Linked DNA regions of Homo sapiens: regions 2, 3, 4 and 5 are each linked to region 1. Evidence: fine-mapped expression QTL. A gene starts in region 1. Each other region holds a variant in brackets. All regions are shown on one strand. Distances are between the middles of the regions.

Region 1 (6,145 bases):
CTGAACTCCATGCTCCCAAGCAAGCTGAGTGACAGCACCACATTGGCTGACATCTCATGAGGTTCGCCATCTCCAGTATCTATGGGCCCCCTCTCTAGTCTCATGAGTCCAGATGCTGGCCAGTCTACCCACCAGCCTGGGGACCTCTGCATTCTCTGAGTCTGCCCTTCAGGACTCACCCCATCCCAAGCAACTCTGCTTGCATGTCCTCTATCTCTACCTAGCCTTCAGCCTTGAGGTCCAACTTGCTCATGTAGGAGGTTCCCAGATGCCAAGCACCTGACCCACATGCCCCCCTGTTGAAACTGCATCTGCTTTGGCCCTGAGAAGAGTCCCACCCAGTACTTAGGATACAGGACTCGGGCCCACTGTGGGAAGACCCCCAGCTGGTTCTGAGTAAAGTCACACTTTGGGGTTAGCAGGGAAGATCCTCCAAGTTGCTCCTGGATGCAGCTGTCCTCGTTTTAGCCCTAGAGGTTCAGCCTCCCCTTCGCGGTGCTGTCACCAACATGCTGACCTCAGGGGCTGCGCATGCCCCTTTTCCCCATGGATCCAGACCCTTCGCTCACACGCTGTTTGGCATAGTTGAGCCCGGGCTATCATGTTTAAAAAAGGCACAGGCGCAGGGGGTGATACTCAGTCATCTGAGCTGCTAACAAAACACGCAAGCATTACTAGTTGGGGAGCTGACTTCGCCTCTCTCATATTCAGCTTGCTTGTCTATAAAATGGGGGAAGTACCTCACCCTTCACAGAGCTGTCAGGGAACTGGTGATAACGTGCACACACTGTGCCAAGCAGGTGCTCAGAAGTATTGCTCACGCAGATGGATGCTTCTGTTGCAAGTTACTAGTCAGGAATGGTCTGAGAGGCCCTGAGACACCAGAGATCTCTTACCTTTGTATATGCCAGAGGATGGGACAGACACACCCAAAACTGTCCCAGTTGTTAATTCCGCTTGTCCCCTGGCCCTGGTCCATCGTCCCTTTCCCGGAAGAAAAAGCAGCACTCCACTCTTGCTAACTAACACCTACCCAGCCTCACCCCTACACAAAACACAGCTGGCTCAGTCCAGCCAGGGATGCTCCTCACCGGACAGACATCCATCAGCCAAATTTCCACATCAGAATTTCCTGGAAAAGGGTGACCACCCGAAGAACTCCCAAAATACGTATCTATCCCAGGGCTTCAAGCTAGAAACAAGGAGGCCCCTTGCTTCTCATGTAAGAAGCAATACGTTCGCTTTCTTTTACATCCGAATCTCGGGAAAGGAACTGGAAAAGCCAGGGCAGGGCACACCTGAGCCTCTCCTACAAGTAGGGTATCTCCGGATTCTCCAGATACAGAACCAAGAGGGTTCCTGCAACATACTCTGCTGACAGCCCATGAAAGCTCATTCCAGCAGCCCCTAAACTTTGCTCAAATGCTACTGATGCCTTTAGGAGAGATTTTGTTGTTCTCTGGACCTGAAAGCAATCTAATGTACTTTTATAAGGCCAGGCTCTTGCTGACAATGTTGCCACAGGATACATCCTCAGGCGGACTCACCCTGTAACCATTTCACTTCTTTCTTTCTTCCCCCCGCCCCCGATGAATTGCACTGAGCATTCTCAGTCAAAATTTGCTACTTTCTCTGTGAAGTAGGTCAAGAGTTAAATAATAAATAAATTCAGCCTCCATGATTTCTTCCGGCAGTGTTTTACCAGAATGTTTAGGAATACTGACACCATTGAAGGTAACTGTTAATTTAGTCTTTACAAGAATCCTGGGGGCAGGCGGGCTTCTAGTAAAGGGGATGTCCTGGAAGGTCACCCCCCCACACACAAAGGACTTTAGAAACTTCGGGTCTCACTCAGGCTGTGACTGCGAGCTCAGTGATTAGAGGACAGCCTGTCACATAGACAATAAACAGCCAGCCGCCTTGCCTCAGCAGGTCCTGTGCAGCCCTGGGGCCAGGCCAGAACCCCAGGAACAAGCCACTTTCGGGTTCTGAGCCTTAGCCTCGGGGAGCTGGACCAGGGGAGCAGGCAGTGGCGGGGGGTGCTACGGCACCCCAGGATCAAGCCTGCTGAGGGGGCTCGGGCTGGTGGCCAGCAGGCTCGGCTGACCAGCAAGTGGGTGGTCCCGAGGCGGCCAGGCAGCCTGACCCAAGGCAGCACGACCGTCCACGGGTCATCAGGCTCTAGACTCCGGGGTGGAGACGCGGGGCTGCGGGACCGAGTCGGTGCCACTTTCTCGCACCCCTGATCCTCCGTGCCTCTTCCCAAGACCGCCAGACCCTTCACCGGCCCCTGCCACTGCCGGGAACGCTCCCGCCTGCTCCTTAACTCACACAGGCAACAAGTTCTCGCTTCCTCAGAGCAGCCACGGTGTGCTCCGGAGGCCCGGCGCAAGGTGGAAGCTCCCCGCGAGTCCGCGTTGCCCACGCCCCGAGGGGCGCCCGCTGCCGTCGCTGCCCCCCAGGAGCGTGGAGCTACAGGTAGCGCCGGCAAGGGCTGCCCCCCGGGGCGCCCCTCCGACCGGGACGCTGCGGCATCCCCGGAACGGGCAACAGGTACGCGAGCGCACCGAGGACCGCAGCCCCGGCTCCTACAGCCCCGGCCCTCGCCCCTTACCTCCAGCAACTGCACGTAGCTCGCCGGGAACCAGCCACGGAGCCCGTCCTCCTTCTCGCCTTCCCACCAGCCGCCGTCCGGGACCTGCAGCAGCGTGATCAGCTCGCCCGCGGCGAAGCGCAGCCCCTGGCCGTGCCGCTCCCCGGAGAAGGGGTACAGGGTCCGGCAGCGAGCGCCGGACATGGCCTTGGCGCCCGGGTTCACAGCGCAGCCTGCATTCCCGCCGAGCCCCACGGGCTGGGCAGCGGCTCCGCGGGGTCCCAGGCGCCCGGCGCTCCGGGCTCCCGCGCTCTGGGCGCGCGCCGTCTCTGGGGTGCGCGGGGGTCCTCAGGCAGGCGGGGGACGCGCGCTCCGCGCCGGGAAGCAGAGACTCGTTGGCTTCGCAGAGCGAGCGGCGACGCCCCCGGGCCGGGCAGCTCGCGGATCCTAGCTCTGGGCTGGGGGGCGGGGCTCAGGGGGAGGAGACCCAGGCGCCGCGGGCTCCGGAGACAACTTCCCGGGAACGCGGAACGCGGGCTGCCGCCGCGAGGGCTGGCCGGGGCCGGGGCCGGGACCGGGGCCGGGGCCGCCCTGGCGCGCGGAAATGCGCAGCTCCCCCGGGAGGTGGGACCCGGAGCATCCCCCGCGGCAGGACTCCGCGGCGGGCGGCCGTGGAGAGGAGCTGGCGGCCGGGTGGCCGGGCGGGGGTTAGCTCACTGGCGAGGGGGCGGGCCGGGGCGGGGCCAGGGCGGCCACGCCCGCGGAGGGCTGCGCGCTCCCTCGCAGAGGGGCCTGTCACTGGGGAGAGGGGCTCCCACTCGCGCCCCCACCGCCGGGGACCGCGGGAATGGAAACGCCCCTCTGTTCTGTGCCTGCTTTGTAGGCCTGGCGGCCCGTGGCGTGCGGGCGGCTTCTTCGAGGTGTCTGCGAGGGATCGTTTGTGGTTGTCATTGTAGTGGTTGAACCTGGGGTTGAACTTGTCTCACCGGAAACTGAACAATGGGTGAAAGACAGGTTTGAAGCCTGGCGCCTGAGCCCAGCAGCCTGGTGGCAGCGTGGCACGCTGGAGGGACGGAATGGAGAGAAGACGGGGTCGGAGTTGATAGAATTGGAAACAGTCGATGGGGATAAATGGAGGAAAGGCGAACGGTGAGAGGAACAGCACCAATGCTTTTACTTGCAGAGGGAAGGCCGGCCCAGGGTACCAGCCCTCCCGAAATCGAGATGGGTTGGCTAAAGAGTCTACACTCATGTAGTCAGTCAACAAACATTACCAGGAGGCTGCCATGTTCCATGCGATGTGCCAGGTACTACAAACATCATTTGGGCCAGTCCCTGCTCTCCAGGGACCAGTGAACCTGAGTGCTGCAGAATGTTGACCTTGAACTGACCGTACAGAAGTAAAAGAAAGCTTGGTTTCTTTGCTAGTCTACTCCATAAAAAATTTTAAAGAAATAAAATAAAGTACATTTTTTAGCCTGTAAATAGCTGGACTCGGCCAGGCGCGGTGGCTCACGCCTGTAATCCCAGCACTTTGGGAGGCTGAGGCGAATGGCTCACTTGAGGTCAGGAGTTCAAGACCAGCCTGGCCAACAAGGTGAAACCCCATCTCCACTAAAAATACAAAAATTAGCCGGGCGTGGTGGCGGGTGCCTGTAATCCCAGCTACTCAGGAGGCTGAGGCAGGAGAATGGCTTGAACCCGGGAGGTGGAAGTTGCAGTGGGCGGAGATCATACCACTGCATTCCAGCCTGGGTAACAAGGGTGAAACTCCGTCTCAAAAAAAAAAAAAGCTGGACCCTTTAATACGCCTGTATACCTCTGTCTACTCCTTCCCCCCTCCCCCAGTCACCTTCTGTGGCTCCCTATTGCCTTTTAAATTTGGTACAAACTTCTCTGCCTGTACATTTCAGGCCCTCCACAACGCCTCCTCTAGCTTCACCTCTTACTATGACTGCCTAGATATCCATTACAAAACCAGTCAGGCCGGGCTCCAAGAGCCTGAAGATCTTGCGCACCTGTCTATGCTTTGAATCAGACCCTGGCACAGAGCCTTTCACCTAGTTCAATGGTTCTCAATCCTGGCTGCACATTACAGTCATTATGCAACTTTTTAAAAATACTCATGCCCAGGTTTTAAGAGTCACTACTGAGCCCTAGTCTGCAGCTAAGCCATCTCACCTGAGCAGCCTCCATCTGTTCTCTGGCCATGGGCAAAGTGACACAAGCAGATTATTTGTAATAGTCCATCAATTGCAAAGTCTTGAACATTCGCTTGGCCGGAAATATAAAGAAACAAACTCTTGACCACAGTCACCACTAAGAGTCCCTTAAAGCGGAGCTGCATAACTTCATATCAAAAACAGTCATTAAAAATAGCTGGCCCAATGAAGTTTTAAAAGAGATACAATTCCTTGTATCAGGAAAATATGTGACTTCCAGCAGGCTGTTCTGAGGCTTCATTCCTGATGATGTGGCCTGAATCAAGGTAGGACAACTGATTTCCAGCCATCCTGCAACCCTAATTCTCTGCATGCCCGTGAGGAACTGTGATCCAGTTTGGACTTGAGAAATCGCAGCCTACACAGCATGCCATACACTTGAGTTCTACCTGACCCACCTCAAACATTCCTGCAGCAACCAAAAATGATAATAGCTGTTAATTTCTCCACTTAATTCATTTCATTCCTGTAATCCTACGAGCTGATGAGGTGACTGTTGTCCCAGTTTTCAGGTAAAGAAACTGGGCTCAAAGAGTGTGACTTGCTCACCATCATACAGCTGGTCAACAGCAGAATCAGCTTTGAACTCAATTCTAGCTTATTGTACACTGGTGTTGCTTTCTGTCGTCCCCCCTGCCAGTCAGAAAGCAGGTATCCTAGTGACTCACCCACAAATAGCATCTTAAGAGAAAGTTCTCTAGGCTGGGCACAGCCTGTGAGAGCTTATGCCTGTAATCCCCACACTTTGGGAGGCCAAGGCGGGCGGATCACGAGGCCAGCAGATTGAGACCAGTCTGGCCAACATGGTGAAACCCCATCTTTACTAAAAATACAAAAATTAGCTAGGTGTGGTGCCGCGTGCCTGTAATCCCAGCTACTCAGGAGGCTGAGGCAGGAGAATCGCTTGAACCTGGAAGGTGGAGGTTGCAGTGAGCCGAGATCACGCCACTGTACTCCAGCCTGGCGACAGAGCAAGACTCCATCTCAGAAAAAAGAAAAGAAAAGAAAAGAAAAGACTCTCTGGTGATACCCAATGTCAGTCTTCATAGAAATAAGACTGGACTAGCAGTTAGTGGAACTCCTGTTGCTGATCTCTTATCAATCAGGTAACCTCCAAATCCTCAAGTCTTCCCATACCTTTGGGTCTATTTCCCCGTCTGTAATTGGAGATCGAATCCAGTAACTGGAATATGGGAATTTAAATGGTTAAATGTAGTTAGTGGTTAAATATGTTGGCTCTGGACTGCCTTTATTCAAACCCCATTTCTGCCACTTTCTAGCTGTGTGGCATTGGGTGATTTACTTACGTCTCTGAGCGTCATTTTCCTCA
Region 2 (6,145 bases), 120 kb before region 1:
TTATCAGACTTGAAGAGCAACAGACCAGAACAGAGCAAATAGATGCTTCTATTGAGATGAAAAAACAGACCTGATAGATTATTTTATGTGGTGATAGGTGACAGTACATGCGGAAGTTTGTTGTTTTTTCTGTTGTGTGTGTGTGTGTGTGTGTGTGTGTTTTGTTTTGTTTTGTTTTGTTTTGTTTTGGAGACAGGATCTCACTCTGTCACCTAGGCTGGAGTACAGTGGTGCAATCACAGCTCACTGCAGTCTCGATCTCCCAGGCTTGAGCAATCCTCCCACCTCAGGCTCCCCAGTAGCTGAAACTGCAGACGTGCACCACCATGCCTGGCTAATTTTTGTATTTTTAGTACAGATGGGGTTTTGCCATGTTGCTCAGGCTGCTCTCAAACTCCTGGGCTCAAGAGATCAACCTGCCTCAGCCTCCCAAAGTGGTGGGATTACAGGCATGAGTCACCGCACCTAGCCTGTGGAAGTTTTTAAAGGGCTAGTGAAGAGAGAAGAATTGGTGCAAGGGACAGAGAAAACCAAGTAAATAAAACCAATTGCTTTTGTTTTTATTTATTTGCTTTCTTGTTGTTGTTCCACCAAAGAAGTAGAAGGCAATCAGTAGCTCAGTTGTAATTTACACTGGCATAATAATATAAACACCAGACCCTGATATCACCATAGGACCACCATTGTGGGAGGTGAGGGAAGAGGTTATATATGGAGGAAAGGAAAAAGTAAAGTGTTGGTGGAAAAGCCAGGTCTAATCTTCTGCAATAAGAAGTTCAATAGACAGTGTGTAAAATTGGTAGGTAGGGGGATATACAACAGTATAAACATATCATTTAGAAAAAGGGCCAGGTGCAGCAGCTCATGCCTATAATCCCAGTGCTTCGGGAGGCCAAGGCGGGAGGACTGCTTGAGGCCAGGAGTTCAAGACCAGCCTGGGCCACATAGCAAAACCTCTATCTCTACAAAAAAAAATTTTTTTAATTAGCCAGGTGTGATGGTGCATTCCTGTAGTCCCAGCTACTTGGGAAGCTGAGGTGGGAAGATCGCTTGAGCAGAGAAAGAAGAGAAAGAAAGGAAAGTAATCAGATGATGGTGAAGAAAGATCAAGATGACAACTGTTCAGACTTGAAGAGCGACAGACCAAAGCAGAGGATGCAGTGAGCTATGATCACACCACTGGACTCCTGGCTGGGTGACACAGCAAACCCTTCTCTCTAAAATAACAAAAACCCCAAATGGAGATAAAGCCCCATTGTTACAAGTGGTGGACTCTGAGAAGCATTTGGGGTGGAGTATGGTAGGAGAATGCTCTTTTAAAACTCTATTACTTTGATAAAAATAAACATAAACACTGTAAACCGAAAATAAAATTCTAAGTCCTTCCAACTATCTGAATGGACATCCTCCTTGGCCAGGATACTCTAAAGTTTAACCTGAAAGACTGGTTCAGATCATGAAGGGAAATGGGGATCAGACATGCTTCATTACAACCCTCCAGCATTAACTTCAACACAGACCTTATGTCTGATAAGAAATACTTACAACCTATTCTCTCTGAAGCCTGCTACCTGGAGGCTTCATCTAAATGATGAAACTTTGGTCTCTTATTGCAACATTCCTTTCTATTGATAAGTCTTTCAATCAACTGCCAATTAGAAAAATTTTAGATCTACCTATAACCTGGAAACCCCAGCTTCAAGCTGTCCCACCTTTCTGGACCAAACCAATGTATATCTTAAATGTATTTGACTGATCATATCTCCCTAAAATGTATAAAAACTAAGCGGCGCCCTGACCACCTTGGCCACATGTTCTCAGGACCTCCTGAGGACTGTGACACGGTCATGGTCACTCATATTTAGCTCAGAATAAAACTCTTCAAATATTCGACAGAGTTTCACTCTTTTCATTGACAACATCAAATTTAAAGAAAAAAAATACACCACGCACAATGGCAACAAAACTATAAGTGAGCTATGAGTAAATATAACTAAAGAGTAAAAGACTTATATGGAGACAATGTAATGTACTGACTTTGGAGGTGTTTGAACCAGAGTGACTCCATCTTGTATAGAGGCTGGGTAAAAGATAAGTCTGAGACCTACTGGGCTGCACTCCTAGTAGATTTGGCATTCTAAGTCACAGGATGAGATAGGAGGTGGCCACAAGATACAGGTCATAAAGACCTTGTTGGTAGAACAGGCTGTGCCAAAGAAGCCGGCCAAAACCCACCAAAACCAAGATGGCAACAAAACTGACCTCTGGTCATCCTCGCTGCTCATTATACGCTAATTATAATGTATTAGCATGCTAAGAGACATTCCCACCAGCACCATGACAGTTGACAGATGCCAGGAAGTTACCCTATATGGTCTATAAAGGGGAGGAGCCCTCAGTTCCAGGAACTGCCCCCTGCCCCTGCCACCTTTCCTGGAAAATTCATGAATAATCCACCCCTTATTTGGCATATAATCAAGAAATAACCATAAAAATAGGCAACCAGCAGCCCTCAGAGCTGCTCTACCTATGAAGTAGCCATTCTTTCATTCCTTTACTTTCTTAATAAACTTGCTTTAGCTTTACTCCATGAACTCTCCCCAAATTCTTTCTTGCATAAGATCCAAGAACGCTGTCTTGGGGTCTGGTTCAGGACCCCTTTCCAGTAACACTGAGATACAATAAAGAAGATCTAGATCAATGGGAATATACAACTTGTTTCTAGATAGGAAGCCCAATATTACCAAGGAGATCTTTCTTCTCAAATTAATCTCAAAACGTAGTGCCATTTTAATGCAATAGTTGTTCATAGAACTCAAGGAGGTAATCCTAGAATTCACAGGAAATAGTCAAGGGCCAAGAACATCCAA[G/C]ACAATTTTGAAGAAGAATGAGGACTTATTCCATCAGATAGTAAAACTTCTTGCAAAGTTACAATTAAAATAGTGAACAGATAGACAAATAGTCCAATGAAACCAGAAGAAAGACCCCAGCAACAGAACACACATTTATAAAAACATACAGCAAAGGTGGTCATCAAATCAGCGAGGTGAGAATAGAGGGATTTTTTAAAATAAGTAATAACAAGATGACAGGCTCCTCAGAAAAAGAGTACAATTGGGCTCTTGCCTTATAACAAACAATAAAAGGAAATTACAAATGGATCAAAGATCTCAACATCAAACAAAAATCTTTAAAACTTTCAGAAAAGTTAAGACCATATATGACCTCACCATAAGAGTTTTTTTTTTCTTGAGACGGAGTCTCGCTCTTGTTGCCTAGGCTGGAGTGCGATGGCGCGATCTCAGCTCACTGAAACCTTCCCCTCCCAGGTTCAAGCGATTCTCCTGCCTCAGCCTCCTGAGTAGCTGGGATTACAGGCATGTGCCACCACACCCAGCTAATTTTTGTATTTTTTTGTAGAGACGGGGTTTCACCATGTTGGTCAGGCTGGTCTCGAACTCCTGACCTTGTGATCCACCCGCCTCGGCCTCCCAAAGTGCTGGGATTACAGGTGTGAGCCACTGTGCCCAGCCAAGAGTTCTTAAATGAGGCATAAAAAGCAAAATCCCTAAAGTAATCGATTAATAAATTTGACTAGATTGCAACAAAAAAGTTTTGCATGACAAAATACATCATTAGAAAATGAAGCGGTAAAGCAATGACTGAAAGACTGCGAAATAGAAAAATGAGCAGAGAATGCACAGGAAACCCACAAGAGAGGAAATTCAAATGGTAAATAAACATTTGAAAACAGACACGACCTGACTAGCAATGAAGGAAATGCAAATGCAAGTTAAATCCAAGGTGTGGTATTTCACACCCTCGGATGGCAAAAATAAGAAGTCTGATGTGTTGGCAAGGCAAATGGAAATTCTGATACTCTGTGGGTGGCAGTCTGCATTTGCAAAACCTCTCAGAAAAACAATTTGACACTATTTAGGAAAGTCCAGATGTACATTCTCAGACCCAGATATTTTCCTTCTAGGTATATGGACCCAAGAAATACCCAGGCCGGTACACGAGGGGACAGGCATAAGGATAAGCATTACACCATTGCTTAGAATGACCTAAAGTGTCCACCAATGGAGATAAAGGTGGCCCATGCACATGCTAGAACAGTACGCAGCAGTTAAGATGAACTAGCTCTACATGCACCAACACGAAAAAAACTCAAAAACACATTGTGTGAAAAAAGTAAATTACCAAGGTATAAATATCGTATGGCACATCTCATGTAAGTTTCAAAACAAGACATTGCTAAACAGTATTTTGGATATACACACGTTAATAAAGATTTTAAACATGCTCATGGGAAACACATACCAACCCCAGAACAGTGGTTGCCTCCAGGAAGAGAAGGAAAGAAGGGAAAGGAATTGGAAGAACACACAGGATTTTTAATGTCAAATAATGTGTTATTTCTGACTGACATGTGGCCAATGTTAATACTTGTCAAATCCAGAGATGGTAATAAGCACATGAAAAATGTTCAGCATCATCAACCTTCAGGAAAATACAAGATAAAAGCACCATGGGAAACTACATCATACTCCCTAGAATGGCTAAAAGAATTTTTGTTAATGCTGGCAAGGAGGTAGAACAACAGAAGCTCATACGCTGCTGTGATGAGGAAATTGAAGCAGTGACTTCGGAAAATAGTTTTGCCATTTCTTATAAAGTTAAATGCATGCTTACCATATGATCCAGCAATTTCACTCCTACGTACTTATGCCAGAAAAGTGAAAATGTGTCCGAAAAACCTATACACAAATGTTCACAGCAGATTTATTCATAATAGCTAAATCATGGAAGCAACCTAAATGTCCATCAATTGACAAAAGGATAAGCAAATTGCAGTAAATTCAACTAATGGAATTCTCATTAGCAATAAAAAGGGGTGAACCATTGGTACAACAATGAGGATGAATGTCAGACATTATCCTGTGCAAAAGAAGCCACATTCAAGAGTACATACTGCATGACACATTTCTGTGAAACTCTAGAACAAACAAAACTAACCTAGAGGATAGAAATCAGATTCAGAAGTGACCTGGAGAGATGAGTGGGTACAGAGGAGAGAAACTGACTGCAAAGGGGCAAAGGAGAGCTTTCTGGGAAGATGTCTTACACACTGACTAATTCAAGTAGTGGTTGCAAGGGTGTATACATTTGTCAACTCATTGGCCTGTACGCATGTAATAAATTTCATGAGAAATTATAGCTCAGTAAAGTTGATTTTAAAAATACGAATGGCAGATACATTTGTTAACATCTCTGTAATTTTCTGTAGACTTAAATATTTTATTAAAAATTAAACAGACTTTAGGCCAGGTGTGATGGCTCATGCCTGTAATCCCAGCACTTGGGAGGCTGAGATGGGTGGATCACTTGAGGTCAGGAGATCAAGACCAGCGTGGCCAACATGGTAAAACCCTGTCTCTACTAAAAATACAAAAATTAGTTGGGTGTGGTGGTGCACGCCTGTAATCCCAGTGACTCGGTGATGCAGGATTTTTCTCGGTCCCTTTGCCAGTCAGGGACTTCTGGCTGGCGATGCCAGAGGCCTTGCCCAGGGCATGCTATCTGCCGCAGGAGGTGCCCTGCCCAGTTGGCCTTCCCAGGCCAAGTCTGGCTTGTGCACTGATTCCCAAGTTCTTGTCCCACATCCAAGAAGAATGAGGATGCACTGAACATTGAAGTGTGAGGAGGACAGAGAAGAATTTTATTGAATGATGAAACAGCTTTAAATACAGAGGGGACACAGGGGTGGTCCCCCTACCTGAAGGCAGGAAAGTCCCCCATGTGGCTGGGTCCAGGGCCTTTTATGGACTCAGAATGGGGAGTGCATGCTGATTGGTTTGTGAGTATGCAAAAAAGGTTAAAGCAAAGACACCACGCAGAAGTGGGCCTGGCAGTACAGAAAACCAATTAGGAAAGGGTAGGTATACATAAAATAGGTGAAGGGTAGGGATCAATCAGAGGAAAGCACACCAAACAGGAAGACAAGTTCTCAGTCTGGTCCAAGGATTTAAATGGTAGCTTGGCTTTCAGGATTTAAGCTGTCTTCGGCCTGGAGGTGAGGTTTCACAGGGACCTGCCCCTGCCTACCTAGGCATTGGCTGCCTCCTGCTGCTCTCACAGGGAG
Region 3 (6,145 bases), 89 kb before region 1:
AGTGCCCCCCCCCCCAAATATATTAATATCTTAATCACCAGAACCTGTGAATGTTACCTTATATGGCAAAAGGGACTTTGTAGGGCATGACTGACTTAAGGATTTTGAGGTGGGGGAGTTATTCTGGATTATCTGGGTAGGTTCTAAATGCAATCACAGGGTCTAAGAGGAAGACAAGGTCAAAGAAGAAAGAGGCTGATGCCACAGTCCCACTGGACTGTGGTAAGGTGGTTCCTTACACCAAGGTGGAAACAGGCGCCAAGGAAGGAGTTCAAGAGGATGAAAACAGGAAGGAACAGATTCTCCTTGGAGCTTCCAGAAGGACCAGCCCTGCCGACACCTTAATTTTTAGCCTTGTAAAACTCATTTCAGACTTTGGATCCTTAGAACTATGAGTAAATAAATGCATTTTAAGTCACTGCATTTGTGGCATTCGTTACAGCAGCAATGGGAAACTAACACACTTCCTCTTACATAACACTACAAGGTGAAGTTCTACTTTGTCTGTCTTGCTGGGCCTCCATTAACCTTTATAGGAACGGCCCCAGGTTCAAGAGGCCAAAGACGAGACACAGAGCCAGCCAATGAGACACAGGGTTTTATCAGCTGGAAACTTACATACAGAGTGGTCCAGTGGTGGCAGGCTGGGAAGGAGAAGTAGCTTATATACAGTCCAGTGGTGGCGGGCTGGGCAGGAGAACTGCCTTACACACAGTCCAGTGGTGGCGGGCTGGGCAGGAGAACTACCTTACACATAGTCCAGTGGCAGGCTGAGCAGGGGAACCACCTTACACACAGTCCAGTGGTGGTGAGCTGGTTAGGGAAACCGCCTTACACACAGTCCAGTGGGGGGCTGGGCAGGAGAACCGCCTTACACAGTCCAGTGGTGGTGGGCTGGGCAGGAGAACTACCTTACACACAGTCCAGTGGTGGCAGGCTGAGCAGGGGAACCACCTTACACACAGTCCACTGGTGGTGAGCTGGTTAGGGAAACCGCCTTACACACAGTCCAGTGAGGGGCTGGGCAGGAGAACCGCCTTACACACAGTCCAGTAGGGGACTGGGTAGGAGAACCACCTTACACACAGTCCAGTAGGGGACTGGGCAGGGGAACTGCCTTACACAGTCCAGTGGTGGTGGGCTGGTTAGGGAAACCGCCTTACACACAGTCCAGTGGGAGCTGGGCAGGAGAACCACCTTACACACAGTCCCAGTGGGGGACTGGGCAAGAGAATCACTTTACCACAGTCCAGTGGAGGGCTTGGCAGGGGAACCACCTTACCATAGTCCAGAGGGGGTCTGGGCAAGAGAATCACTGTACCACAGTCCAGTGGCGGGCTGGGCTGGAGAACCACATGGCCCAGCGTGGCCAGCTAGGCAGGAGAACTGCAAGCACTTGCCTGAAGCATGCAGTTTATAGAGCATTTTTGCTTTGCATCCTCTCCCTAACAACCTCCACCTGGCAACCTTCATTTAACCCAAAAGAAAGGGCCTTGGTCCTCCATATGGCCTGTGTTCCACTGGACGGGCCAAGGGCTCAGATGTTTCTCATAGGTAAGGAATGAATCTCTGAGTTGGCCACTGCCTGATTCTTTAGCATGGAAATCCACACACACATTCTGGTGCATCTACCACACAGGGTCGTTCTCAGGGTATGCTTAACTTATTGCTGTCAAGTGTGTCTACCATGCACTGTGATTTTCTATTTAATGCATGCCCCAGTGAGCATTTTCTTTGAGCATCATATAGTCCTGAAAAAGTTTCAGATTTTGGAGGATCTGTCTTTGTATTTAGCTCAGATATTTAAAAATTGCACTGCAGAGTAACCAGATAGCATGACGTTCATATAAAAACAGGCACGTAGACCAATGGAACAGAATAGAGAATCCAGAAATAAATCCATGTATTTACAGCCAACTGAGTTTCAACAAAAGCACCAAGAATACACATTGAGGAAAGGACAGTCTCTTCAATCAGGGGTGTTGAGGAAACTGGATATCCATACGTAGAGGAATAAAACTGGACCCCTATCTCTCACCATATACAAAAATCAACTCAAGATGGATTAAAGACTTAAACTAAGGCTCGAAACTATAAAACTACTAGAAAGAACACTTCAGGACATTGGTCTAGGCAAAGATTTTACAGTTAAGACCTCAAAAGCACAGACAACAAAACCAAAAATAGACAAATGGGCCCATATTAAACTAAAAAGGTTTTACAAAGCAAAGGAAACAGTCAACAAAGTGGAAAGACAATCTATTGAATGGGAGAGAATATTTGAAAACTATTTATCTGATGAGGGACTAATAGCCAGAATATACAAGGAACTCAACAGCAAAAAAAATTTAAAAAAATAAAAATAAATAAAAATAAAATAACCATTAAAAAGTAGGCAAAGGGCATGAATAGACATTCTCAACAGAAGACATACAAATTGCTAACAGGCATATAAAAAAATACCCAACATCACTAATCACCAGGGAAATTCAAATTAAAACCACAACGAGCTATCATCTTACGCCAGAGTTAGAACGGGTATGCCTGGCTTATTTAACTTAAGGTAACATAATAACCTCCAGTTCCATTCATGTTGCTGCTAATGACAGCCGTTAGAACAGCTATCATTAAAAAGATAAAAAATATCATTAAAAAGATAAAAAATAACAGATACTGCCAAGGATGAGGAAAGATGGGATCTCTTGTACACTACTGGTGGGAATGCAAATTGGTACAGCCACTGGGGAAACCAGTACAGAGACTTCTCAGAAAACTAAAAATAGAACAACCATACCATCCAGCAATCCCACTGCTGGGTATTTATCCAAACAAAAAGAAATCAGGATATCAAAAGACATCAGGCCAGGAGCAGTGGCTCACGCCTGTAATTCCAACACTTTGGGAGGCCAAGGCAGGTGGATCACCTGAGATCAGGAGTTCAAGACCAGCCTGGCCAACATAGCAAAACTCCGTCTCTACTTAAAAATACAAAAACAGGGCCAGGCGCGGTGGTACACGCCTGTAATCCCAGCACTTTGGGAGGCAGAGGCGGGTGGATCATGAGGTCAGGAGTTTGAGACCAGCCTGGCCAACGTGGTAAAACCCCCTCTGTACTAAAAATACAAAAATCAGCTGGGCGTGGTGGTGGGCGCCTGTAATCCCAGCTATTCGGGAGGATGAGGCAGGAGAATCACTTGAACCCGGGAGGTGGAGGTTGCAGTGAGCCGAGATTGTGCCATTGCACTTCAGCCTGGGCGACACAGCAAGGCTCCGTCT[C/CA]AAAAAAAAAAAAAAAAAAAAGATATCAAAGAGATACCTGTACTCACACGTTTACTGCAGCATGATTCACAATAGCAAAATTATGGAATCAACCTAAGTGTCCATCAATGGACAAGTGGATAAAAAAATGCGGTATATATACACCGTGGAATTCTATTCAGCATGAAAAAGAAAGAAATCATGTCATTAGCAGCAACATGAACGGAACTGGAGGTTATTATGTTAAGTTAAATAAGCCAGGCATAGAAAGACAAAGATCAGTGTTCTCACTGATATGTAGGAGCTAAAAAAGTTGCTCTCGTGGAGATGAGAGTAGATAGTTAACTAGAGGCTAGGAAGGGTGTGTGGGAAAGAGGGGGGATGAAGAGAGTTTGGTTAAGGGGTACAAACATACAGTTAGACAGAAGATATAAGTTCTTTTCTTTTTTTTTAAGACGGAGTCTCGCTGTGACACCCAGGCTGAAGTGCAATGGCGCAATCTTGGCTCACGGCAACCTCCGTCTCCCGGGTTCAACCAATTCTCCTGTCTAAGCCTCAGCCTCCCAAGTAGTTGGGACTACAGGTGCATGTCACCACGTCTGGCTGATTTTTGTATTTTTAGTAGAGACGGTGTTTCACCATATTGGTCAGGCTGGTCTCGAACTCCTGACCTCAAGTGATCTGCCCGCCTCAGCCTCCCAAAGTGCTGGGATTACAGGCATGAGCCACTGCGCCCAGCCAGAAGATACAAGTTCTAAAGTTGGATAGCAGAGCAGAGGGATTATAGTTAGCAACAATATATCACACATTTTGAAACAGCTAGAAGAATGTTTGTTCCCAACACACAGCAATGACTGACGCTAAGGTTATGGATACCCCAAATACCCTGACTTATCAATTATTATACATTCTATACATGCAACCAAATATCACATCTACCCCATAAATATGTAAAACATTACGCGTCGATTAAAAAGTAAAATAACACAAGATGCTCTATTTAGACAGGGCTAGTTTGCTTTGGTGTCCACAACTTGTAGGTCAGTAACTGCTGTGTACATCTATGGATATCAAAAGTCCTTAAGGGGGCCGGGTGTCTTGGCTGGCACCTGTAATCCTAGCAGTTTGGGAGGCTGAGATGGGAGGATCCTTTGAGGTCAGGAGTTCGAGACCAGCCTGGTCAACATGGTGAAACCCCGTCTCTACTAAAAATACAGAAATGGCCAGGCGCAATGGCTCACGCCTGTAATCCCACAACTTTGGGAGGCCGAGGTGGGCGGATGATGGGTAAGGAGATTGAGACAATGTTGGATAACACAGTGAAACCCCGTCTCTATTAAAAATACAAAATAATAGCCAGGCGTGGTGTCGTGCACCTGTAGTCTCAGCTACTTGGGAGGCTGAGGCAGGAGAATGGCATGAACCCGGGAGGCGGACGTTGCAGTGAGCCAAGACTGTGCCACTGCACTCCAGCCTGGGTGACAGAGTGAGACTCTGTCTCAAAAAAACAAACAAACAAACAAACAAAAAACCAGAAATATACTTGGGAGGCTGAGGCAGGAGAATCGCTTGAACCCAGGAGGCAGAGGGTACAGTGAGCCGAGATCACGCCACTGCACTCCAGCCTGGAGACAGGGCAAGACTCCGTCTCTAAATAAATAAATAAGTCTTTAAGGGAGGCCTATATTCCAAGGGAATTGCGACCCTCCTTGGTGGGTCTGGCAGCCTAACCCCAATTGTGTTTCCAATAGGCGAAATTCGGGAGTTCCAAAATTGGACCAGGTCATGGGGCCTGGATACCCTGATGAAGAACTGCTGCCGTGTTTCGACTTGAGGAAACCTAGACCAGATACACTCTGCTTCTTAGACTCTTATTTTCATGCTAAAAGCATACAGTTTAGACCTGTGCTCTCCCATATGGTAGTCAGTGGACACATACAGCCCCTCAATATAAATTAATCCAAATGAAAGAACCACTTCCGCAGTTGCACCAGCCACATGTTAGTGGCTACCGTACTGGGCGTCACAAAAGTAGAACATTGCCATCCTCAGAGAGTTCTACTGGGCTGTGCTGCCTGAGGGCATCTCTCCAGGCATTCTTTGCTACAGCTTCACCTCCAGCTCCCTGACTTAGAAAAGCCTGGGAGCAGAGAAATGCTGTCACTGCATCCAATTCCACCGTGGATGCATCCTCGAGCACGTGACCGAAGACACACAGCGAGGGATGCTTTCCAGGGGTGTTTGCCCACGTGTGGGGCTTTTCACTGAAAAGACTCTATCTTTGGAAAGGGAGAGGCAGAAGACACAGAACACTGGAAAACAAGAGGAAGACTCAGGCAGGAGCAAGGTAGGGCAGATGGAGATGAGAGAGAGGAGGGAAGTAGGAAAAGATAATAGGAGTAGCATGTAGAAAATGGAGTCTAGCCGGGCGCGGTGTCTCACGCCTGTAATCCCAGCACTTTCAGAGGCTGAGGTGGGTGGATCACCTGAGGTGAGGAGTTCGAGACCAGCCTGACCAACATGGAGAAACCCCAACTCTACTAAAAATACAAAATTAGCCGGGCATGGTGGCACATGCCTGTAATCCCAGCTACTCAGGAGGCTGAATTCAGCAGGAGAATTGCTTGAACCTGGGAGGCAGAGGTTGTGGTGAGCTGAGATCATACCAGTGCACTCCAGCCTGGGCCATGAGAGTGAAACTGCATCTCAAAAACAAACAAAGAAAAGAAAAAAGAAAGAAAGAAAGAGAGAAAGAGAAAGAAAGAAAAGAAAAGAGAGAGAAAAGGAAGAAAGAGGGAAGGAAGGAAAGAAAGAAAAGAAAAGAAAAAAAGAAAAAGAAAAGAGAAAAGAGAGTCCAGTAGTGTCATCACAAGTAGAAAATTCAAGTGTT
Region 4 (5,221 bases), 72 kb before region 1:
GCACAAATCCCCACTGGCAGATCGGGGCTCTGGCCTGCCTAGCTCCCACAGCACACCATTTGCAGGTGGCTACAGATCTCATGATTTGCTGGCTCTCTTTCGGCCTGCAAATGCCAGGCTTAGCCAGCGAATGGGGCACTGGATATTCTCAAGGACTTGGTACAACCTTTCTAAAGAGCAGTGTGGGGCCGGGCACAGTGGCTCACGCCTGTAATCCCAGCAGTTTGGGGGGGAGCTGAGGCATGTGGATCACCTAAGGTCGGAGTTGGAGACCAGCCTGGCCAACATGGTGAAACCCTGTCTCTACTAAAAATACAAAAATTAGCTGAGCATGGTGGTGCGCACCTGTAATCCCAGCTACTCAGGAGGCTGAGGCAAGAGAATCGCTTGAACCCGGGAGGTGGAGGTTGCAGTGAGCCGAGTTCGCGCTACTGCACTTCAGCCTGGGTGACAGAGTGAGAATCCTCAAAAAAATTCAATAAATAAATAAAAATAAAGAGCAGTATGACACCATGGGTCAAAATGTGCACTTGAGTGGTCCACATTTCCTGGAAATTACTCTCCGTGCAAAAAGATATCATCACAAGGAATGGTTATCTTCAGTAATTTTTAATAGCAGTAAAAAAAAAAAAAGGGGGGGTGTGGAAGAACCTCAGTGTCCATCATAAGGGGATTGCAAATTAATAGTTTATCCAAATTGTGACTAACAAACACTAAAACAAACCTGTAAATATATTTAATGATAGAAATATATTCTGAGAATATTAAATTTAAAAAAAATAGGTCAAGGCTGGGCGCAGTGGCTCATGCCTATGATCCCAGCACTTTGGGAGGCCAAGGCAGATGGCTTACTGGAGGTCAGGAGTTCAAGATCAGCCTGGCCAACATGGTGAAACCCCATCTCTACTAAAAACACAAAATTAGCTGGGTGTGATGGTGTGCACCTGTAATCCCAGCTACTCGGGAGGCTGAGGCAGGAGAATCGCTTGAACATGGGAGGCAGATGTTGCTGTGAGCCAAGATGGTGCCATTGCACTCTTGCACTCCAGCCTGGGTGACAAGAGCGAAACTCCATCTTAAAAAAAAAAAGAAAAAAAAAAAAGGTCAAACAACTGTGTGTATAATATGATCATAAAAGGATAAAATGGGGATTGTTCTTTCTTTCCCAGTTGGATGAAAGAGGGGAGTAAAGGGTGATGGGGAGATGAGGAGGGAGGAGGGCAGGGTGGTGTAGAGAATGAGGCCCGGGTGTGAGGGGGTCAGCTGTGGGTGGGAGCCACTGGCCACTGGGGGAATTAGACTAAGTCTTGTTTAGCCTTCCTCTGGAAGGGCCTTAAAGGATGATGAAAACATCCGGAAAATATTTAGCTAGTAAATCTTTCAGAAGCCCCTCCACCCTGTGTTATTTATATAAACACTTCCCTTCCACTCCTCTCTACCCTCACATACACCCGCCCCGATTCCTATCACAGACTTGGAATCAGCAGAGCCAGAGAGAGCTGGACAAGGCTGGCTCCATGTGCGTTCTGACCACCACGGGTGCAACCCATCTGTGCAGTATGAAGCCTGCGCTGATGTGTTCCCTGGCCCCCATCGCAGAGCAGCCCTCTGACCTGCCAGGGACCCACAGCAGGGGTCGGGGGTGGTGGCCACACTATTTGGGTTCCCTGGCCACCAAATCTCCAGCAGTGATTGTCCCAGGGACTCAAGGAAGGGGAAGGGTTAAATGGGGGAGTCGCTTCTCAGACAGGAGAAAGTATTTGCTCTAATCCTGTCCGTTCTCCTGGAACTTCCTGGAGTTCTCAGGGAAGAAACCCTTAATGAATGGTGTGAGGGAAAGAGAAATCACATGCACATGAATGTGTGCATGCCACACACACACGCTCACACACACACTCATACACTCACACACACTCTTGCACACACACCCACACACTCACGCACATGCACACACAAACGTGCAAACACGCACACACAAACACGCAGATGCACACACGCGCGCGCGCACACGCACTCATGCACACACGCACACTCACACCCACTCACATACACACAAACACGTATCACACACGCACACACAAGCACACACACAAAGAGCGCACACACGCAGACATGCACACACTCTCGAAAACACACACATTCACACACACACGCTCACACACATGCAGACACACTCACACACTCGCGCACACACATATTCTCTCTCTCAAGATCTTCCTCCTGCTCCTGAGAAGTGCCCAGAATTCGGGGAAGCCACTCACTTGTTAAACAACAGCCTTCTTTTGAGGGTTAGGAGCCAGTCCCAGCGTGGGGCACGGGGAAGAGACTATGCTCCGGAACCAAGCCGGCTCTGACTCTAGTCCCAGTGAGAGCACAGCAGACAGTGAACCAGTTCTGGCTTCAAACCCCAGCTCTGCCGCTTAAGCTGTGTGACCTTTTTTAACCTCTTTGGGTCTCTGTTTCTTCCCCTAGAGAGTCCTGGTATCCTTGAAGGGAGATTGCATCAGAGGCTGGGAGTCTAGAAACCTGGGTGTGAGTGCAGGCTGTTTACTGGCCTGAAGGTTGGAGCCAGCCTGCTGGTAGGTGCTGGCCAGCACCTTACATTGTTTGTTGTTGTTGTTAGTTTAAATCAATTGGCAACATTACACAATTGGGAGAGTGTGGATTTCCAGCTGGCCATGTGTTCCCAATGACTGGCTGATGCTCCCTGCATTTTGAACCCTAAATCAAGTTAGTTTAACCTTCCACGGCTCTGGACAGTGAGTTAACAGGAAGCCCTGGGAAGAAGAAAGCAGTGCTTCCACGAGCCCCTCCTCAGATGCAGCCTCAGCTTGCGTCAGGGGAACGCCTGGTTTCCAGGGGCCCCATGTTGCCCTCTCACTTTTGCACAGCCTGCTGTGTAAAGATGAACCAAACATGGCCCAGGAAGTGAGTGTGCCAGCTGGGGATGAGCAGGTCAGGAGGCGGGGAGTATTGCACACCGAGTCCACGGCCTGGAGGAGACCTGGGCTCAAGTTCCTGTGGGGAACGCTCCATTTTTCTTTGCCCCAGCACCTCATCAAACAGTCCCACCCAGCAGCCCTGAAAGTATTTTAGCTGTGCACTCACAGAGGGACAGACTCAGGGCCGCAGGACACAATCCTCATTCAAGAATTTTAATTTTAAAGATACTAATCTGAACCAGGAAAACACCAGATCTTGCGCAGAAAATCCCCCGATTCCAGGGCTCTGATGGAAAGCAGGGGCAGAAGGCCCCCTCCAAGGTGTGAACCGACCCCAGTCTCTGTCCCCCTAAACCCCCAAGACTGGGCAAGCTCCAACCAGG[C/T]GAAGTGGACTAGGAGAGGAATCTCTGAGTAAATCGAGTAAATCCTGGAATCCCAAGCATCTCCTTGGAAATGCTGATTAAACACCAGAACCCACGCAAAGATCTGAGCAAATTCCAGGACCACCACTCGGGCCACATAAGCTCTCAACGGAGCACACACACACACTGAGTCAGACCCCTAAACATCTGGGGCTTAGCTAATCCTCTGCTCTCAGGCGTTCAGCTTGGATGGACTCCGAGGGGAGGCAGCACCGGCGAGGGATTCAGTCCAGTTTCCAGGGAGCCCAGCCAGGCCTGGGAGCCAGGGCTCGGCCCTACCCCGGCTGGGGCCCCCGAGTCACACACGGAGGCCATGCGTACATCCTCCCCAGCCCTCACCAGCAGTTCCGGGGCGGCTCCAGTGCCCAACCCACACATGGGAGGTGGAGGCCACAGTGCTCCAGGATTCCACTCTGCGGTGCAGACTTCGAGAGGAAACAATTTCCTAATCCCCTTCCTAAATCAAGGCCAAGAAACAACTTGTGGAGAGTCCACAGACGACTGTTCCCTCTGCCTGGTTGTCCCTGTGCTGACCTCTGGCTGCTCCCAGGAGCCATTAGAGGGAGTGGACGGGAGGGGTGGATGGGAGACCCACAAACCCACAGCCCGGGATTCCATACTTGATACAATCAGTTCTGAGTATCAATCCACAGATCATTGAATTCCAAAGCTAGCTGAGGCCAAATGCCTCCCCCTCTCACCCCCTTAACTAGGCCAGAACATAAAACCCAGCATTTCATTACTTACATTTATGCAACAACATCCCTTGCCTGTTTTCATTTTCAGTGAAATAAGTGATCGTTTTGCTTTTTCTTTTCTCTTTTTTTTTTTTTTTTGAGATAGAGTCACCCACGCTGGAGTGCAGCGGCGTGATCTCGGCTCACTGCAAGCTCCGCCTCCCGGGTTCACACCATTCTCCTGCCTCAGCCTCCCGAGTAGCTGGGATTACAGGCGCCCACCACCGCGCCCAGCTAATTTTTTGTATTTGTAGTAGACATGGGTTTTCACCGTGTTAGCCAGGATGGTCTCGATCTCCTGACCTCCCTCGTGATCTGCCCACCTCGGCCTCCCAAAGTGCTGGGATTACAGGCGTGAGTCACTGCACCCGGCCTGCTTTTTCTTTTTTCAAATTCCAAACCAAATGATCTTTTAACCTAAATAATCCTGATTGATTTGGTATCTCCCTGTGGGTCAGCAGACATATATGAGAAGACATTTTTTCACCCTTTGACTTAAATAAATAACATAGGTAAGAGGAGCCTTGATAGCAAAAACGCCAAGACCACTCAATGGGGGAAAGGGCCATCTTTTCAACAAACTGCTGCGATGAGAGATACAAACATACAAAAGAATGAAGCTGGACTCCTTGCTCACACGGCATACAATTAACTCAAAATGGATCAAAAGACTAAATGTAAGAGCTAAAACTAGAACACTCTTGGCCAGGCACCATGGCTTATGCCTGTAATCCCAGCAACGATGGGAGGCTGAGGTAGGTGCATCACTTGAGCTCAGGAGTTTGAGACCAGCCTGGGCAACGCAGGAAGACACTATCTCTATGAAAGGTTTAAAAATTAGCTGGGCAGGGTGGCACATGCCTGTAGTCCCAGCTACTTGGGAGGCTGAGGTGGGAGGATTGTTTGAGACCGGAAGGTCAAGGCTGCAGTGAGCTATGATCACACCACTGCATTACAGCCTGAGTGACAGTGAGACCCCATCTCAAAAACAAAACAAAAAAACTCTTCAAAAAAATAGGTGTAAATCTTCATGACCTTCTTAGACTAGGTGATGCCTTCATAGATATGACACCAAAAGCACAAGGAATCAAAGGAAAAAATCGGTAAACTGGTCTTTATT
Region 5 (6,145 bases), 280 kb before region 1:
CACACGCACACATCATGAATGACTCAAAAGCATTAAGCTGAGGGAAAGATGCCAGACTCAAAAGGCGACATCAGTGTGACTCCATTTATATGACATTCTAGAAAAGGCAAAATTATAGGATCAGATAATCAATCAGGGTTGCCAGGGAAAGAGGGCAGGAGAAGGGAATTTTTTGGAGGGTTAAAAACAGGTTGATCTTGGTGATGGTCACAAGACACTAAATTTGTCAAAATTCACAGAGCTGTATATTTCCAAAGGGTGAATTTTACTGGATGTCAATCATACCTCAATAAACCTGGGAAAAGGTGGTGGCGATGGGCCTTGTAGGGATGGCAAGGATTATGGGGATAAGACGATGTCCAGGCTACGTGGGGGGGCAGCTGATCTGTACCCCACTTAACATTAGAAGTGCTCTCTCCGACCTACACAAGGAATGCATCTTGAGCCTTCTGTTTAAACACTCCTTGTCAAGACTACCTGCAGCTGGAAGTAAAATCACCTAAACAAGCCAAGGTCGCTGATGTCCTTCGAATGTTATGGCTTGTATTTCCAAAAGGGACTTTGGCTCAGCCCAGATTTTTCTGCATCCATCCACTCATCTAGTAATTGATTGGTTTTCACAAAGGGTAGGGAAAGAAACCCCTGGTTGGTGAATTCGTTGGTACACTGTTTCGGTGTGCCCAGCTGTTTATCAATCCTGACTAGCAGAGCACTGCCTCCCACCGCAGAAATTCTCCTTGGCCAACAGGGTGCTGAGTGGAGGTAGAAAGGAGGCCCAGGGTGGTCCCACTGACAGAATCTCAGGGCCGCCATCCCCACGGTCCAAGGGGCCTATGTGTTGCCACTGACTGAAAGCACTAGAAAGAATAGAGGGTAACAAGTGGCTCTTCCTGGAGGTTGTCACAGCAACCAACTTGGAACACCATTTGGCTTAAGGAATTTTTTTTTTCTTTTTAAATCAGGCTTTCACAAACAGATCTTGTGCATCAGTCTCCTGGGTGGAGGCAGGTAGAAGGGGCTGACTTGTTCTCAGAAATGGAAGGGACATTCTCAAGAATAGCCCAGACCCGCCCACTTTGAATAAACCCAGCTAAGTCCTCACCTAAGCACCAAGACATAAAACAAAACAACAACCCGGATAGCGTGCTTGCCTCTCCAAAGTGCAGTCTTTTATTTTCTCAGTTGCATCCTAACCTTGATTTCAACCAGAAACGGGCCCCTGTTCATACGGATAGGGGTTCTGGACTGTTGACTCTAGCCCTGGTCTTAATTCACTGGCAATTTCATAGCCTCACTGGTTACCCTTGAGCTTCACTTTCCTATTTGCAAAGAGTTATTTATAATTTTTTTGAGATGGAGTCTTGCTCTGTCACCCAAGCTGGAGTGCAGTGGCCCGATCTTGGTTCACTGCAATCTCCGCCTCCCAGGTTCAAGCGATTCTACTGCCTCAGCCTGCCGAATAGTTGGGACTACAGGTGTGCACCACCACATCTGGCTAATTTTTTGTATTTTTAGCAGAGACGGGGTTTCACCATGTTAGCCAGGATGGTCTCGATCTCCTGACCTCGTGATCTGCCCACCTCGGCCTCCCAAAGAGCTGGGATTACAGGCGTGAGCCACCGTGCCCGACCCTTATTTGTAAAGAGTTATTTAAAGCAAACAGAGAAATTTCTGAAATTCGAATTGGATATGGGCCGTGAGGGTCTGGTGACCAGGTGATTAAAATCTTGTTGCTGTCTACCTTCCATCCAACAGGTAAATGCCTCACGACGGTGGTTTATATTATAATAAAGAATCCCAGAGGGTTAAGTGTGGAGAGGGTACAATGTTCTTATTATACTCTTCTCAGTCGACATGGAGAATAGAGGAGAGCAGAGGAATGCCCATCTTACATACAACTAGAGCGCCGCTTCTCAGCATGCCTGGCTTGTCTTGAGCATTCGCTGAATGAATGCAGATTAATCAGAACAACAGACTTACCTCTGAAAACTTAAATTCTGTAGAGTGCCTATGTATCAATGCCAAGGTTGCTGACCGGTAAGACCCCTGAAAACGAGCGATCACGGGCTTCCCTGACGACAGGGCCATTATAGTGTCCTCAGATTAGATCTTAGCACAATGGCTTTAACCTGCTTGATGAATGAATAACAGAGGGAAGAAAGAAAGGAAGTACGTGAAGGGGGTAAAGAGAAGGAGGTGAGGGGATGAGGGGGGAAAGAGTGACCTCCAAAAATGGACTGGCCCAAACTGGGCCAACCTGAGCTACCCTGGAAGACGCAAGAGGGCTCACTCTATCCCAGGGATGAACAGAGGACTCTGGAATCCTCAGATGTAATGGAAAAGTCAATGAGCCATATTGTACTCAAAATATCTTGTTAATAACAAGGCTATTGGCTTTGAATGTTTGGAAATCATCCACAGAGTAGTTTACTAAGCCACAAAGCAATTACCACTAGCACCCATTTTTCATAAAGAAACCAAGAAATAATATTCTAAAATTGGTAGCTGGTGTCATGACCCAACCCCAGATCTGGACAGAGTGGTTCTCCATCCCATGGACAGATCCTACCAGGAGGTCTTCACGTAGGTGAAGGCCTTTGTGCTGACCTTTTTGGTTGCAATGTTTCAAGAACAAGAGAAAAGTGACAACGTTTGGTTTACTTTAGTATATTAGGCATTTTTCTAATGTGAACTATACGAAAGCAATTCTCATTCAATGAAAGAGGCGCCAAAAAATTAGAGATTAATAAGTCATCGG[T/A]TTCTAGCACGTTGACTGAAAGACCAGTGAGTTGTGCTTGTTGAATTCTGCCCTCACTGCAGATGTGCAGGTCAAACCCAAAGTGGTCAATGGGAAAGATGAAGAAAGATGGATTTCCAGGGCATGGGCTCCCGACTAGAATCTGCCCCTCGCTCATGCTTCTCCCGGCCCCTTTAGACTCTTTAGACTGACATGGTGGAGAATGTGTTTGCTGTGGTAGAGAAAGGGAGAAAGTAATGAGCTGGGCCAAACAGCAGCACTGAAAGCTTCCCAAGTCACACTCAGACCAGACTTTTCCAGGGATTGGAAGATGGAGAGAGGGAAAGGAGGTGCAGACACCAAGTAAGGGTTTGGTGCAGGGCTCTGGAATGTCCAGAAGGAGCGGGAAGCAAAGGTGGCGGGACACTGCCTGAAAGGCGACAACCTAGTGTGGCCACAAGAGAGTCTGCTATGCCTGTCCAGTGCCCACCAGTGACAGAAAACTGTACAAGGGACAGCAGTCCCAGCCCTGCCATACACAAGAAGACAGAGCCATCTGGGGGATGGCAAAGACTTGCCCTAACCCATCTCACATGTAGGACTGACCCGGCCCCATTAAGAGCCTGTGGTGGGCGGCCCGGGAGAGTGGGGGCCAGGGCAGCCCAAAGGTGCACAGGGCACCGTGGCGGACAGGCCCCAGCTTGCTGGCCTCTGAGACGAGCTGGTTTGTTTCCATCCCTGAAGCCTTTGGACGAGCTGGATGAGGTCTTGATAACTGAGAACTTTGGAAAGCTTCCTCTAATGAGACTGGGAAGGGCTGGCAGGGTGGGGGCAGGGGCCTCCCCGAGGAAGCAGCTGGGGGAAGGATGGATTGGCATTTCCAGAGGAGACTTTACAGATGGCGCCTGATCTCATGGGACACGATTCAGCGCTCAATTTGGGGCTAATTTGCCGAATGAGGTAGTTCCATCCTGACCTCTCCAGGCATGGTGGGTCTGGGAAGACAGGAGCCAAGCCTTCCTCCTAAAACCCCTGGTGATGAACAGTGGCTGAGAAAGCCAGATGTGGACTCCCAGAATGCAATGGGAAAAAAATAAAGAAGGAGGGCTGCAAAGGATTCTGGGTGCGGCTGTGAGCTGAATGGCACCTTCTACCCATGATTCTGATCCTGACACCTGGCTTAGAGACAGAGCCCTCCCTACCCTGATCCTCCAAAGCCCTGGAGACAAGGGAGCCAGCTGGAGGAAGAGCCTTGGGGCTTCCAGGGCACAAGCATGTGACAGTGACCCCTACAAAACTCGGCAAGGACCACAAAGTTCCAGCCTCTGTTTGTTTCAGAGCGGCAAGCACAGCATGGGAGTCAGGGGGTCTTCAGCCTCAGAGACAAGGGCAGGGCTGTGGGTCTGTCTTCTGGGCCTGGGAATATGGGGGAGCCCCCAGCTAGGCTGTCCGGGTCACCCTTCTGGAATCACCAGCTCTCTCCCCTCTCCTCAGTGGCCCAGGAGAGAGGGTGGGGGGCATCCACTCGGCATGGGCCCCATGGTGGGAGCCCAGCCCCCCTCCCCAGCAGGACCCCCCGAAGCTGCACAGGCCCATCTAGATCTCCATGTCCACAGGGCGGATGTTGCCCGTCTTGTGCTCTCTGACCCACAGCTCCCTGTCTTTGGCCGGGTCCACTTTTCGAAGCAGCTGATCCACGGGCTCGACTGTCTGCAAGAGACAGAGAAAATGCGACACTGTTAGAGACGGCGGCCAAGCCAGGGAGGTCTCCTCTGAGACATGCTGTCCTCACCTTAGTGTCTCTGAGAGCAGCCTCTCTAGAGGGCTCCGGGGCCCCAGGGGGAGGCCCATCTGAGGGACAGCACATGAAGAGGGCTGTGAACGGGGAACCCAGTATGCATCCCGACCCTGCTTCTCACCCTGCAGACCCCAGGCCTGGATGAGAGGCCAGGAGGGCCTTAAAACCTGTCTCTATCCCTTCCACCCCACATTTACCACCAGTGAACAGGACAAATAAAACTTGAGCTTTAGGTATTGTGAATATTTCTAGAAGTTGTTTTTTTTGGTTTTGTTTTTTAAGAAATTTAATAATGTCTTCAGCTACTGTAACTGTTACGAGCTTCTTTCTCCTCAGGGTAACAGCTCACGTGTGTGTCCACTTCATGTGCCAGGGTCGGAATCACACAGACGTCCAGGACAATCCTGAGAGGCCCAGTCCACGAGGCCACCCCCAGGCCAGAGCACCTGCCCACTGCCCGCCTTTAGGGCAGATTCACTTGCAGCAGCCACTTAACCTGCCACGGCCTAGCGCCAGGCGGCTCTCCCCAGGCCCCGTGTCGCCCGGGAGCCCCGCTGGGCTGGAAACTCACGCTTTGGTTGAACATGTCTGTTTCATGCCGCAGCTGCGTGTACTGGCACAGGTGCTGCCGGATCATCTCTACCCTCTCCACCTCCAGCCGCTCTAGCTCCTGCCGAGAAAGCAAAGGCCAGAGAACTCTGAGCACGTCCCCTCCACTTGGGGGTCCCCCCACCAAGACCACAAAACGCAAGTCACTGGCTGTGGACATTCTGTCCCATCTGACTCTCTGGGGTCTGATGAAGAGCGTGCCCCATATCTAAGGTGAAGGTGAAGCTGATGACAGCAGCAGCGGCTGTTTTACTTCCTGAAATCCTGCTCCGCCACGCACAGTGCTGAGGGCTTTACGTGCGTTCCTTAACTGTCCTCGTTACAATTTTAAGAGATCGTTTCTGTTATTATCCCCATTCTCCAAGCAAGGGAACTGGGGAACTAACACCTAGAGAGGCAACAACACAGCTCACCCAAAGCGACACGGAATTATGGGAGGAACAGGATTTAAACCAGAGTCCATCAGGCTGTTACTCATGGCAATGCACCCATGCAGCCCTGGCCCTGGTGCCCTGATGGGGTATAACAAGGGGGCACATGTGGGAGCTCCATGCCACACATTCCTGGGACCTTGTCCCTGGGCCTCTGCTGAGCAGCCTCCCTTCCTCTGCCTATGCCTAGTGCTGTGGCCGCAATAGAGACCGGGCCAGGGAGGCAGACTGGGCTGCACGTGGCACAGCTTTTGTCAAAGGGGAGCGTGGAAAGGGTTTGTCCTCTGGTTTCTAGATGGTTTTGTGTCTTTGGAATCTAGGGGATCCGGCTGTTACTCTGCATACAACTAGGTCACTGCCCAGGTGATTAATCAGAAAGGGGGGTAAAGCAGGGGGCTTAATTAGGAGATTAACCAGGAGGAAAACTAGGTCACTGTCCCTGGTGGAGGCCTCTAATCTGCTCTGGTGGGCTGACACCTGGGGAAGGCAGCTGGTTAGTCCTGTGCTGGATGGACAGGGGTGGCTTTAGGCAGTGGGCTGATCCGATGAGCACCTGGCATGATGCCTCCT

The links. PIP is the estimated chance that this variant, and not a neighbour inherited with it, causes the effect. A credible set is the group of variants that fine-mapping cannot tell apart.
Region 2: its variant is the best candidate, but not a certain one, in a credible set for the expression of GAS7 in whole blood (INTERVAL, PIP 0.81).
Region 3: its variant is the best candidate, but not a certain one, in a credible set for the expression of GAS7 in monocytes (Fairfax 2014, PIP 0.89).
Region 4: its variant is the best candidate, but not a certain one, in a credible set for the expression of GAS7 in whole blood (INTERVAL, PIP 0.62).
Region 5: its variant is the best candidate, but not a certain one, in a credible set for the expression of GAS7 in whole blood (TOPMed, PIP 0.71).

The regions. Positions count from the first base shown.
Region 1 is chr17:10,195,594-10,201,738 of GRCh38, forward strand. GAS7 (growth arrest specific 7) reads right to left here and starts at 3,013. Exons shown (of 14, transcript NM_201433.2): 1 at 2,615-3,013. The coding sequence starts at 2,797.
Region 2 is chr17:10,077,921-10,084,065 of GRCh38, forward strand. All of the region lies in intron 1 of GAS7 (growth arrest specific 7), which reads right to left. Among named protein-coding and RNA genes, the nearest start is that of GAS7, 120 kb to the right of the region's middle. The variant G/C (reference allele first, on the strand shown) is at 2,871.
Region 3 is chr17:10,106,777-10,112,921 of GRCh38, forward strand. The region is part of intron 1 of GAS7 (growth arrest specific 7); the gene reads right to left. Among named protein-coding and RNA genes, the nearest start is that of GAS7, 89 kb to the right of the region's middle. RefSeq lists an enhancer at 454-995. The variant C/CA (reference allele first, on the strand shown) is at 3,277.
Region 4 is chr17:10,124,448-10,129,668 of GRCh38, forward strand. All of the region lies in intron 1 of GAS7 (growth arrest specific 7), which reads right to left. Among named protein-coding and RNA genes, the nearest start is that of GAS7, 72 kb to the right of the region's middle. RefSeq lists an enhancer at 2,803-3,520. The variant C/T (reference allele first, on the strand shown) is at 3,326.
Region 5 is chr17:9,912,895-9,919,039 of GRCh38, forward strand. GAS7 (growth arrest specific 7) reads right to left here. Exons shown (of 14, transcript NM_201433.2): 13 at 5,107-5,205; 14 at 1-4,447. The coding sequence ends at 4,334. Among named protein-coding and RNA genes, the nearest start is that of RCVRN, 11 kb to the left of the region's middle. The variant T/A (reference allele first, on the strand shown) is at 2,759.